Regions from separate parts of the Homo sapiens genome. Here regions 1 and 3 are each reported to be linked to region 2. The links are microRNA targets in miRTarBase. Many come from high-throughput screens and were not tested one by one. Region 2 holds a microRNA gene; each other region holds the end of a gene's coding sequence.
Evidence for each region. The annotated mature microRNA hsa-miR-4282 reads UAAAAUUUGCAUCCAGGA and lies in region 2 at 1,065-1,082, opposite strand. An mRNA with a match to its seed (bases 2 to 7 or 8) in the 3' UTR can be bound and repressed. Matches are read on the target gene's strand: a 7mer-m8 pairs with bases 2 to 8, a 7mer-A1 pairs with bases 2 to 7 and ends in A, and an 8mer does both.

Region 1: the mRNA of SLC7A11 is a reported target of hsa-miR-4282. Seed matches in the 3' UTR shown: 7mer-m8 at 2,310-2,316, 7mer-m8 at 2,790-2,796 and 7mer-m8 at 3,260-3,266.
Region 3: miRTarBase lists SKP1 as a target of hsa-miR-4282. Seed matches in the 3' UTR shown: 7mer-m8 at 1,721-1,727 and 7mer-m8 at 2,770-2,776.

The regions. Positions count from the first base shown.
Region 1 is chr4:138,169,216-138,172,481 of GRCh38, reverse strand. It overlaps SLC7A11 (solute carrier family 7 member 11), which reads left to right. Exons shown (of 12, transcript NM_014331.4): 12 at 465-3,266. The coding sequence ends at 526. It overlaps SLC7A11-AS1 (SLC7A11 antisense RNA 1), which reads right to left. Exons shown (of 7, transcript NR_038380.1): 5 at 776-949. Among named protein-coding and RNA genes, the nearest start is that of LINC00616, 40 kb to the right of the region's middle.
Region 2 is chr6:72,966,633-72,969,898 of GRCh38, forward strand. MIR4282 (microRNA 4282) reads right to left here and starts at 1,121; the gene lies at 1,055-1,121. All of the region lies in intron 1 of KCNQ5 (potassium voltage-gated channel subfamily Q member 5), which reads left to right. The region is part of intron 3 of LOC105377855 (a long non-coding RNA gene); the gene reads right to left.
Region 3 is chr5:134,155,057-134,158,322 of GRCh38, reverse strand. It overlaps SKP1 (S-phase kinase associated protein 1), which reads left to right. Exons shown (of 6, transcript NM_170679.3): 6 at 555-3,266. The coding sequence ends at 590. Among named protein-coding and RNA genes, the nearest start is that of SKP1, 20 kb to the left of the region's middle.

The DNA.
Region 1 (3,266 bases), not on the chromosome of region 2:
TAGGAGATAAGACAACATTCTCAATAACATGTTACAAGTTAGAGAATGAAAATTACATTCTGATTCTCCTCCAGATTCTTCTGAGGAACTGATTGTAATCTCATAGGTGCAAAAAGAATAAACCAATTTTAAACTGATATAAAGTGTATTTTTAAACATTTATTTATATATTGGTCCTACTGTTTCAAAATATTTTCACCCTTCTGGTCCATGAATAAAAATCCTTATTTGAATGCAAAATATTAATGTATTCTTGCTGAGAAGCCATCATGGGAAGTTACAGAAGTGACAAATAAATTAATTGAGCATGATAGAATTCTAATGAAGTAAATAATTCTTGAAAGTGCTCTATGAAGTAGACAGTTGTGTGTTTTTGGTATTCAACCCAAAATAATTCATATTTTGCTATTTTTAATGCATTTCTGATTTCCATGCATTTTTAATTCATTTTTATTTCTTTGTAGAGAAAATAACCAGAACATTACAAATAATACTGGAAGTTGTACCAGAAGAAGATAAGTTATGAACTAATGGACTTGAGATCTTGGCAATCTGCCCAAGGGGAGACACAAAATAGGGATTTTTACTTCATTTTCTGAAAGTCTAGAGAATTACAACTTTGGTGATAAACAAAAGGAGTCAGTTATTTTTATTCATATATTTTAGCATATTCGAACTAATTTCTAAGAAATTTAGTTATAACTCTATGTAGTTATAGAAAGTGAATATGCAGTTATTCTATGAGTCGCACAATTCTTGAGTCTCTGATACCTACCTATTGGGGTTAGGAGAAAAGACTAGACAATTACTATGTGGTCATTCTCTACAACATATGTTAGCACGGCAAAGAACCTTCAAATTGAAGACTGAGATTTTTCTGTATATATGGGTTTTGTAAAGATGGTTTTACACACTATAGATGTCTATACTGTGAAAAGTGTTTTCAATTCTGAAAAAAAGCATACATCATGATTATGGCAAAGAGGAGAGAAAGAAATTTATTTTACATTGACATTGCATTGCTTCCCCTTAGATACCAATTTAGATAACAAACACTCATGCTTTAATGGATTATACCCAGAGCACTTTGAACAAAGGTCAGTGGGGATTGTTGAATACATTAAAGAAGAGTTTCTAGGGGCTACTGTTTATGAGACACATCCAGGAGTTATGTTTAAGTAAAAATCCTTGAGAATTTATTATGTCAGATGTTTTTTCATTCATTATCAGGAAGTTTTAGTTATCTGTCATTTTTTTTTTTCACATCAGTTTGATCAGGAAAGTGTATAACACATCTTAGAGCAAGAGTTAGTTTGGTATTAAATCCTCATTAGAACAACCACCTGTTTCACTAATAACTTACCCCTGATGAGTCTATCTAAACATATGCATTTTAAGCCTTCAAATTACATTATCAACATGAGAGAAATCACCAACAAAGAAGATGTTCAAAATAATAGTCCCATATCTGTAATCATATCTACATGCAATGTTAGTAATTCTGAAGTTTTTTAAATTTATGGCTATTTTTACACGATGATGAATTTTGACAGTTTGTGCATTTTCTTTATACATTTTATATTCTTCTGTTAAAATATCTCTTCAGATGAAACTGTCCAGATTAATTAGGAAAAGGCATATATTAACATAAAAATTGCAAAAGAAATGTCGCTGTAAATAAGATTTACAACTGATGTTTCTAGAAAATTTCCACTTCTATATCTAGGCTTTGTCAGTAATTTCCACACCTTAATTATCATTCAACTTGCAAAAGAGACAACTGATAAGAAGAAAATTGAAATGAGAATCTGTGGATAAGTGTTTGTGTTCAGAAGATGTTGTTTTGCCAGTATTAGAAAATACTGTGAGCCGGGCATGGTGGCTTACATCTGTAATCCCAGCACTTTGGGAGGCTGAGGGGGTGGATCACCTGAGGTCGGGAGTTCTAGACCAGCCTGACCAACATGGAGAAACCCCATCTCTACTAAAAATACAAAATTAGCTGGGCATGGTGGCACATGCTGGTAATCTCAGCTATTGAGGAGGCTGAGGCAGGAGAATTGCTTGAACCCGGGAGGCGGAGGTTGCAGTGAGCCAAGATTGCACCACTGTACTCCAGCCTGGGTGACAAAGTCAGACTCCATCTCCAAAAAAAAAAGATTATATATATATATATATGTGTGTGTATGTGTGTGTGTGTGTGTGTGTGTATATATATATATATATATATACACACACACACACACACTTTTTATATATATATATATATATATATAGTGGAACTTACAAATGAGAGTAATATAATGATGAAATTTTGAACTGTTATTTATAAACATCTAAGGTAAAATGGTTAGTCATGGCCAGAGTATGTTTCATCCTTTAATTTTTGTCCATTTGAAAATAAGGATTTTTGAAAGAATTATACCAATTAAAATTATTAAAGGCAAACATAGAATTCATAAAAAATTGTCCAAAGTAGAAATGATGACCTATAATTTGGAGCATTTCCAATTCAGTAATTTCAATTTTGCTCTTGAAAACATTTAATATATATCCAAGACTGACATTTCTTTAGCTGAACCTAACGTTTGGGTCTCTGAGTGAATTTATAATAACTCCTTCCTTCCTTAGCATAGGGTTTTCAAAATTTGATTTATAATTCCTATTTCCAGTAAATATTGTTCATTTGTCCACATCTCTCCCTATGATATGTTGCTGGAGGTAAGAATTTCTTTCATATTCCTATTTTTTTTTTCCCCATAGACTAGGCTCATAGAATTTAAACAAGCAAATTTTCCTGAGCTTTTTCTTGCCAAATGAAAGAAGACTGGTAAATTCTCATAGAGAGGTTTGTGTAGTTCTTGGCTCTTCCTGGGGTTAATGTGCTTATATTCACAGTGGCAAATTGGTCTCAGACTTTAATTTATTTATTTTTGATTTGAATTTCTCTTTAAAAGTATCAATTTAAAAGGTAACTAGAATTATTCTTTCTCATTTTCAAAAGTGATTTTTGCATTATTAAATTTCCCTGCCATTGTAATGCCATTTCACGCAGAAAAAAAGTCAGCCAGTAATTAAGAAAAAAAGTGATGGAGATTAAGTAGTATTTTGGCTTATTTTTAGGACTCATCATGAGAAGACACAGTTCCTTTAATCAGGAAATTAATATCCATAATTTTCACTCAAAATTGCAGTATGTAAAGCAGATTCTCAAAAACTCTCCTGAACACTTATTTATATATATGTTTTTATATAAGTAAAATTTT
Region 2 (3,266 bases):
TAAATTTGTGGTGACCCTCAAATATTTATGCTAAAACTTAACTTTCAGTATGGAAACAGAAACATGGGTTCAATTTAAAATCCATGACTGGATCATGAGCAGGGCAAAGTGAGAGGCATTGTGAGATAGGGCCAAATGCTTCGAGAATTTACTCCATACAGACTGTGTTCAGGAACCCAGCACTTCCTCTGTGACTCAATAACTGGCACATATGGTTGCCAGGGACTACCAACAGCTGATTTCAATAAAAGTTACCCAATTACACCTTGAAGACCTGTTGTTTCTGGAGGGAGTTGGAGGAATTAAGGAATGTGGACTGAGTTTTTAAAATATATCTTACAGAAGTCAGAGGAAGATATAGAAGGACAGGAATATACTCAAGATACAATATTTTCTTCTACTGTACTTTTTGTTACATGGAACAGAATTTTAGCATTGGATCCCTTCAGCTGTGACAAAGGAGAAGGTCCATGGTTATAAAGTTTTCCATTAGACTCTCCTCACACACAGGAAATGAACTTCCATAAATTTAATGATATGACTCTTAGGGTTTTATTTCTCCCATTTTATAACCCTCTTTAGGATAGAAACACATTTCTTGCACTATAAAAATTTTAGTCAGCAAATTTTTCATATTCTCACTGGGATTTCATAATCAGTCTGTACACCCTTCCTATGCAATAACTTTTGATCAGTATAGTGAAATATAATGGTATTATGTAATTTTAAGATGTACATCTTAAAGACAAAAAAATATCCCTTTATTTAATTCAAGATAAATAAATCAGTGAGGAAAATGTATGGTGAAAAGTTTGGGCATATATTAGTTATCTTTCAATATATTTTTCATTTTTTTCTTTTTATTTCCTTCAACCATATGATGCAATCAACGGATATTTGTTGGGTGCTTTGATGTTTTCAGATCTATGCTATGCACTACAAGGGTCTCAAAAAGGAATGAAGAACAAAGTCCCTGCTCTCAAGAATGTAGAGTTTTCCATACAAGGTTCTAAAAACCATTAAGGTCACTTAAGATATCAGTCAGAAGGTGAATAGGATGATGTTCCTGGATGCAAATTTTAGAAATGTGGCATACTAAAATCTTCCCCTGGAACTTCACCATTCACACCTAAGAAGTTAAAGATGTCTCAGTAGGTTCTCACTATGTTGTCTAGGCAGGTCTCAAACTTCTGGCCTCAAGAGATCCCTATACCTTGGCCTCCCAACGTGTGGAGGTTACAGGCATAAGCCACTGCACCTGACCCATTTTCTCCTTCTGAAAACTCTTTTGGATTTTAGGATACCATGTTCTTTGGATTCTTCCCTGCTTACTCTGACCTTCCTTCTTGACCCTCACTGTCTCTTCCTCATTCGCAGGGCCACTTCTCCTTAGCGACCCCAACACAACCAAGTCTCAAAATTGGACATCTGATATATGTGACAAAGATATGTTTTCATTTATATAAAATGTGAATAGAAACTTACATACACACACACAAACATACAAACACACACACACTCACAGTGTCTCAGAAGTTCTGCAACAAAGAAATACAGTTATTGTCATTGAACCCAGAACTCCCTAAGTGTTTTTGACAGAGCAACTTTTTCTTGAGACAGATCTATAAAAATCTCTTGGGATAGTGGTGTTCTATGGAAAACAGTCTGGGGAATACTGAATTAGAGAACCGTGTGAGACATTTTATTATTAACATGCAAACTCAAAGTACTGAAAGTGTAGAGAAGAGAAATATCATTATGATCTAGACGGGTGAAGAAAAGAATCTCAAAGGAGGATAGACTTTTAAAGAAATAAGTGAAAAAAAAAACAGAACATGTGATGAGGAGGGGGAAATTCAGATTATATCTCCCAAATTGATGATATTGATTATTTGAAAGAGGAAGGCAAAGGTGTAGACAATGATTATTAGGGACTTTGACTTTCTAAGTTATACATTTCTATATTGTTTATGTACTTGTTTTTACAAAGTTTTACAAATGTTTTATGAAGTGGCTTATTCTTATAATCCAGAGATATTCTCCTAAAACTAACTAAAGTTTATTTATCAGATTAACTAATGATGTGTATAGCTCTTACTTCCACAATTATCCATATATACATATATGCAATATTTACAAACATAGAGATGTACAAATATAATATCTCGGCCAAAAATAATTGAAGCATCAAAGTCAACCTACATTGTAATCTTGGGCAGCACCTGTTGTTTATTCATCTCTCAAGTGTGGCTGACTTCAGGGATGAGAATAAACAATGTGATCTCTTACTAAGCTTCCCTTTGGACTAGTCATCCAATTGGTATGTGATGACTTTATACCTGAAACTAAGGAGTTGAGGAATAAGCTGAAAATAGCCAACTTGGGTTTCCTAAGTACAGTTTGGCTTCTGTAAGAACTGTTTGGTTGCTCCTCAATTTCAGTGTATTCATTTTTTAAAGTATATTTATTTTAAAAGTGGCAAATTCAGGTATTACTTAATAATTAAGAAGCATTTATGCCCAAACACAATATATGTTTACAACCAAATTTGAAAGTAATTGAACTGATAACCCTTTAGACAAAGGAGATGTGTTATAATAAATATTATTGTCAGCTTTCCTTCATCTTAAGATTTTTTGAATCTTGGAAGAAGATATGCATGAACTTTGTGTTGGGTATTTATAAATGTATACACATATATACATAGCAAAATGTAAGCACAATACAGGTATAACATGTAAGGTTAGACCATGTAAACTTGCTGAAATTCAGTTGTTTCTGACCTACAATAATGGCAATTTCATATGGTTGAACCTAATGGTTTGTCTCAGTCATTAGTTAGTGGTGCCTCCTCCCCTAGGTAGAGTTTTCCAATTGTGTTGGGATGGTATTTTCACTCTTGTAACATTCCCAACTTGTATCAGAATTCCCTTCATCTTCCCTCCTCTACTTTTATATTATTCTATTCCGTCATTTTTCTCCTAGATACGACTGGACAGATTGTTTACTTATAGCAGTCCCTATATGTTAATCCATTTCTTTGGTCAACAAATTCTCAAACATCAGACCTTAAAGGTCAAAGAAAATCCCTGTGTTGAATTCAGTACCATGTATACAGAATTAGTCAACTATTGCGGCTCTTTCCCTATTATCTATCCCTATTTCTGTTACTGTTGATGTTGTCTGGGAGTATCTAAACACTCCCAGGAATTCAGGTACTTAAGAGGACTGTCTGGATAACAACGTCTGGTTATCTGATGTCAACT
Region 3 (3,266 bases), not on the chromosome of region 2:
TAAACATACTCTTACTGTTCTGTCTTTATGAATCTGAACACTTAGATGATACTGCATTTTAAGCATAAGAACAATTAGTTTTCAATGAGAAGAGCTCTTGTTAATGTATTAACAGTTACTAGTTTTGGCACCTGCAACTTTCTGTATAGACCATACATATCTGACATCAGAAAAGCAGGCCCTAGAGAGAAGTATATACTAGGGTACTTTAGAGCAACTTAATGAGGGGAGGAAATGAAAGAATAGATCAGAATGATTTTGTTGACATGACTACAGACTGAAATAATGTGAATGAATTAACTGAATTTGCTCTGTCAACTTTAGTAAATTGCCCATTGCCTTTGCTTTGTTCATAATTTCAGCAGGGCAGAATAAAAACCATGGGAGGCAAAGAAAGGAAATCCGGAAATATAGTCTTAACCTGGTGTTGTTCTAATTTTCCATCTGTTCTTCTGACTCAACTCACTGGCTATCGATGAATCAGTAGGTAGTATTTATAAGTCTTAGGAAAGACTACTCAAGTTAAGGTACTTCCCTATATCCATCTCTTTTAGGTACGCAAAGAGAACCAGTGGTGTGAAGAGAAGTGAAATGTTGTGCCTGACACTGTAACACTGTAAGGATTGTTCCAAATACTAGTTGCACTGCTCTGTTTATAATTGTTAATATTAGACAAACAGTAGACAAATGCAGCAGCAAGTCAATTGTATTAGCAGAATATTGTCCTCATTGCATGTGTAGTTTGAGCACAGATCCCAAACCTTACGGCCAAGTTTCTTCTAGTATGATGGAAAGTTTCTTTTTTCTTTGCTCTGAATAAAACTGAACTGTGGGTTCTCTATAAGTGGCATTTTGGGCTTTCCCTCTTTTTTGTAAAGCAATGTCTGCCTAGTTTATTGTCCAGTTAACTTTAGTGACCTTTTAAAAGTTGGCATTGTAAATAAAACAACTTGCAAAAAAGTTTTCTGGAATAGAATTAACAAAATATTATCTTTATTCATGAGTTGGAAACTGGAAAAAGGCTTCTTGAAGTAAATGTTCTGAGTGGAGCTACTAGGATGTCTTCCAGCCTCCTGCAGTCAAGGAGTACCACTGTATTGATTAGCCTGTATGTAGCAGGGCTCCCTTCATTGCATCTGAGGACTTGTTTTCTTTTTCTTTATTTTTAATCCTCTTAGTTTTAAATATATTGCCTAGAGACTCAGTTACTACCCAGTTTGTGGTTTTTTGGGAGAAATGTAACTGGACAGTTAGCTTTTCAATTAAAAAGACACTTAACCCATGTGGGATGTCATCTTTTTATAATTAGTGTTCCCATGTGGAGAAAATTATTCACACTACTTGCATGTAAAGAATAATTTAACTTTTAACATTAAAATATGTGGTAAAACCCAGAAAGCATCCATCATGAATGCAAGATACTTTCAATAAAAAGTAAGTTATATAGTAGGTAGTTAAGTTTGCTTTTGTGGACTTAAATGTGTCTCTTCACTTAAATGGGTTGAATGTGTATATATTTGTTCAGCTTGAAAAGACTTAGTTTATATCCTAGCTCACTGGAGGCTGCTGACATAACCATAACTTCTGTCCCTTCTAATTGTCATTTATATGCCTAACTGGAGCTAGTACTTTAATTCTTAACACAAAATTACTCTGCCATTGTTTCCAGCTTCCCTCCTACAATAGAATGAAGTTTTTTTGATGGCTTGAGATGGCTCACAAATTTTGATTTTTTTTTCTTCCTTGTGCTCCCTTTTTTTCTCCTTGCTTTTCCAGTTAACATCTATATTCACATGTAATCTTGTTTTCTCTTCACATTCACTGAGTTGTTCAGGCTCAGATCATCCCTTGACAGTAGTTTGCCTTCATCTCACCTTTCATTTGTCCCAAATTCACCTTATTTAATAAAGTCCCATATGTTGTCTCACTTAATTCCAATTTGTTGTCTGTACCAGAGATAGGAAACTATAATGTGTGGGTCAAATCAGGCCCATAGCCTGTTTTTGTAGTCTTTGAGCTAAAAATGGTTTTTACGTTGTAAAGAGTTATTTAAAATTCTCTCTCTCTCTCTCTCTCTCTCTCAGGAGATAAGCTTGTTTTCTGTTTGTCCTGGTTTTAGTGGGGAAGGTAGCGGTGTATAGTCCTAGCTGAATTGTCTCATCTACCAATTCCTGCTATTATAAGATCAACTTCTGCAAAAACCTTATCCACCTCAAGTATCCTTAGCAGCTGGGCATGGTGGCTTATGCCTGTAATCTCAACATTTTGGGAGGACAAGACAGGAGGATCGTTTGAGCCCAGGAGTTCAAGACCAGCCTGGGCAACACAGAAAGTCCCTGTCTCTCCAAAAAAAAAAAAAAAAATTAGCAGTCATATGGTGCATGCCTATAATCCCAACTACTTGAGAGGCTGAGGTGGGAAGATGGCTTGAGCCTGAGAGGTCGAGGCTGCAGTGAGCTGGCATTGCACCACTGCACTCCAGTCTAGGCAATAGAGCGAGACCTTGTCTCAAAAACAAACCAGAAGTATCCTTAGCAGTATTATGACAAACAAATCTTCACTGAAGGTCCAGGATTACTGCCATATGCCATGTTTAACTTGTAAAGGAAGTATCACCTTCTAAGAAACTGGAGCTTGTTATTACCACTTGATCTGTATAATACTCAGCAGTAGTTAGAATTATATGAGTAAATAACGTCACTATCCGTATTTAAAGGATAATGAGATCTTTCAGAAAGATTGGATGGACAGACAATATAGTAGTAATTTAAATTTTTGTTTCCTGACTTTCTGTAGTCCCTAAACAAACAACAAAAAATCCTAGTAATCTTAAACTTTTACATTAATAGAGATCCAAGAGAAAATAAGCCATTTTTCACCATTGTGGACCCAAATAAATCATAGACATGGTATTAAGAAGCCCTTTTCAGTCTGGTTGCAGTATTATTTTCCTACCTTTCTTTTTCCTGTTCCCTGCTGTATGCCCACTATTCCTTTAATATATCTACTAGAACTTTTCTAGGCTTTCACCTGGAGTGAGTGGTCCTTTCTCATTATCACAGTAGCCAAACCTCAGTCTTCAAAACTCCACTCATTTCTGGCTACTCTCTTACTTCCCAACTATTCTTCTAAACTAATATTGTGGCATTAAGTCATACCTTGAGGCTGGAGTTTTAGTGTCTTCATGGCCTTGGGCAAGTTGGAAATAGGTACTACGGTTTTATAGATCTAGTGCAGTCTGCTTTATATTAGTTCCAGAACTTCAT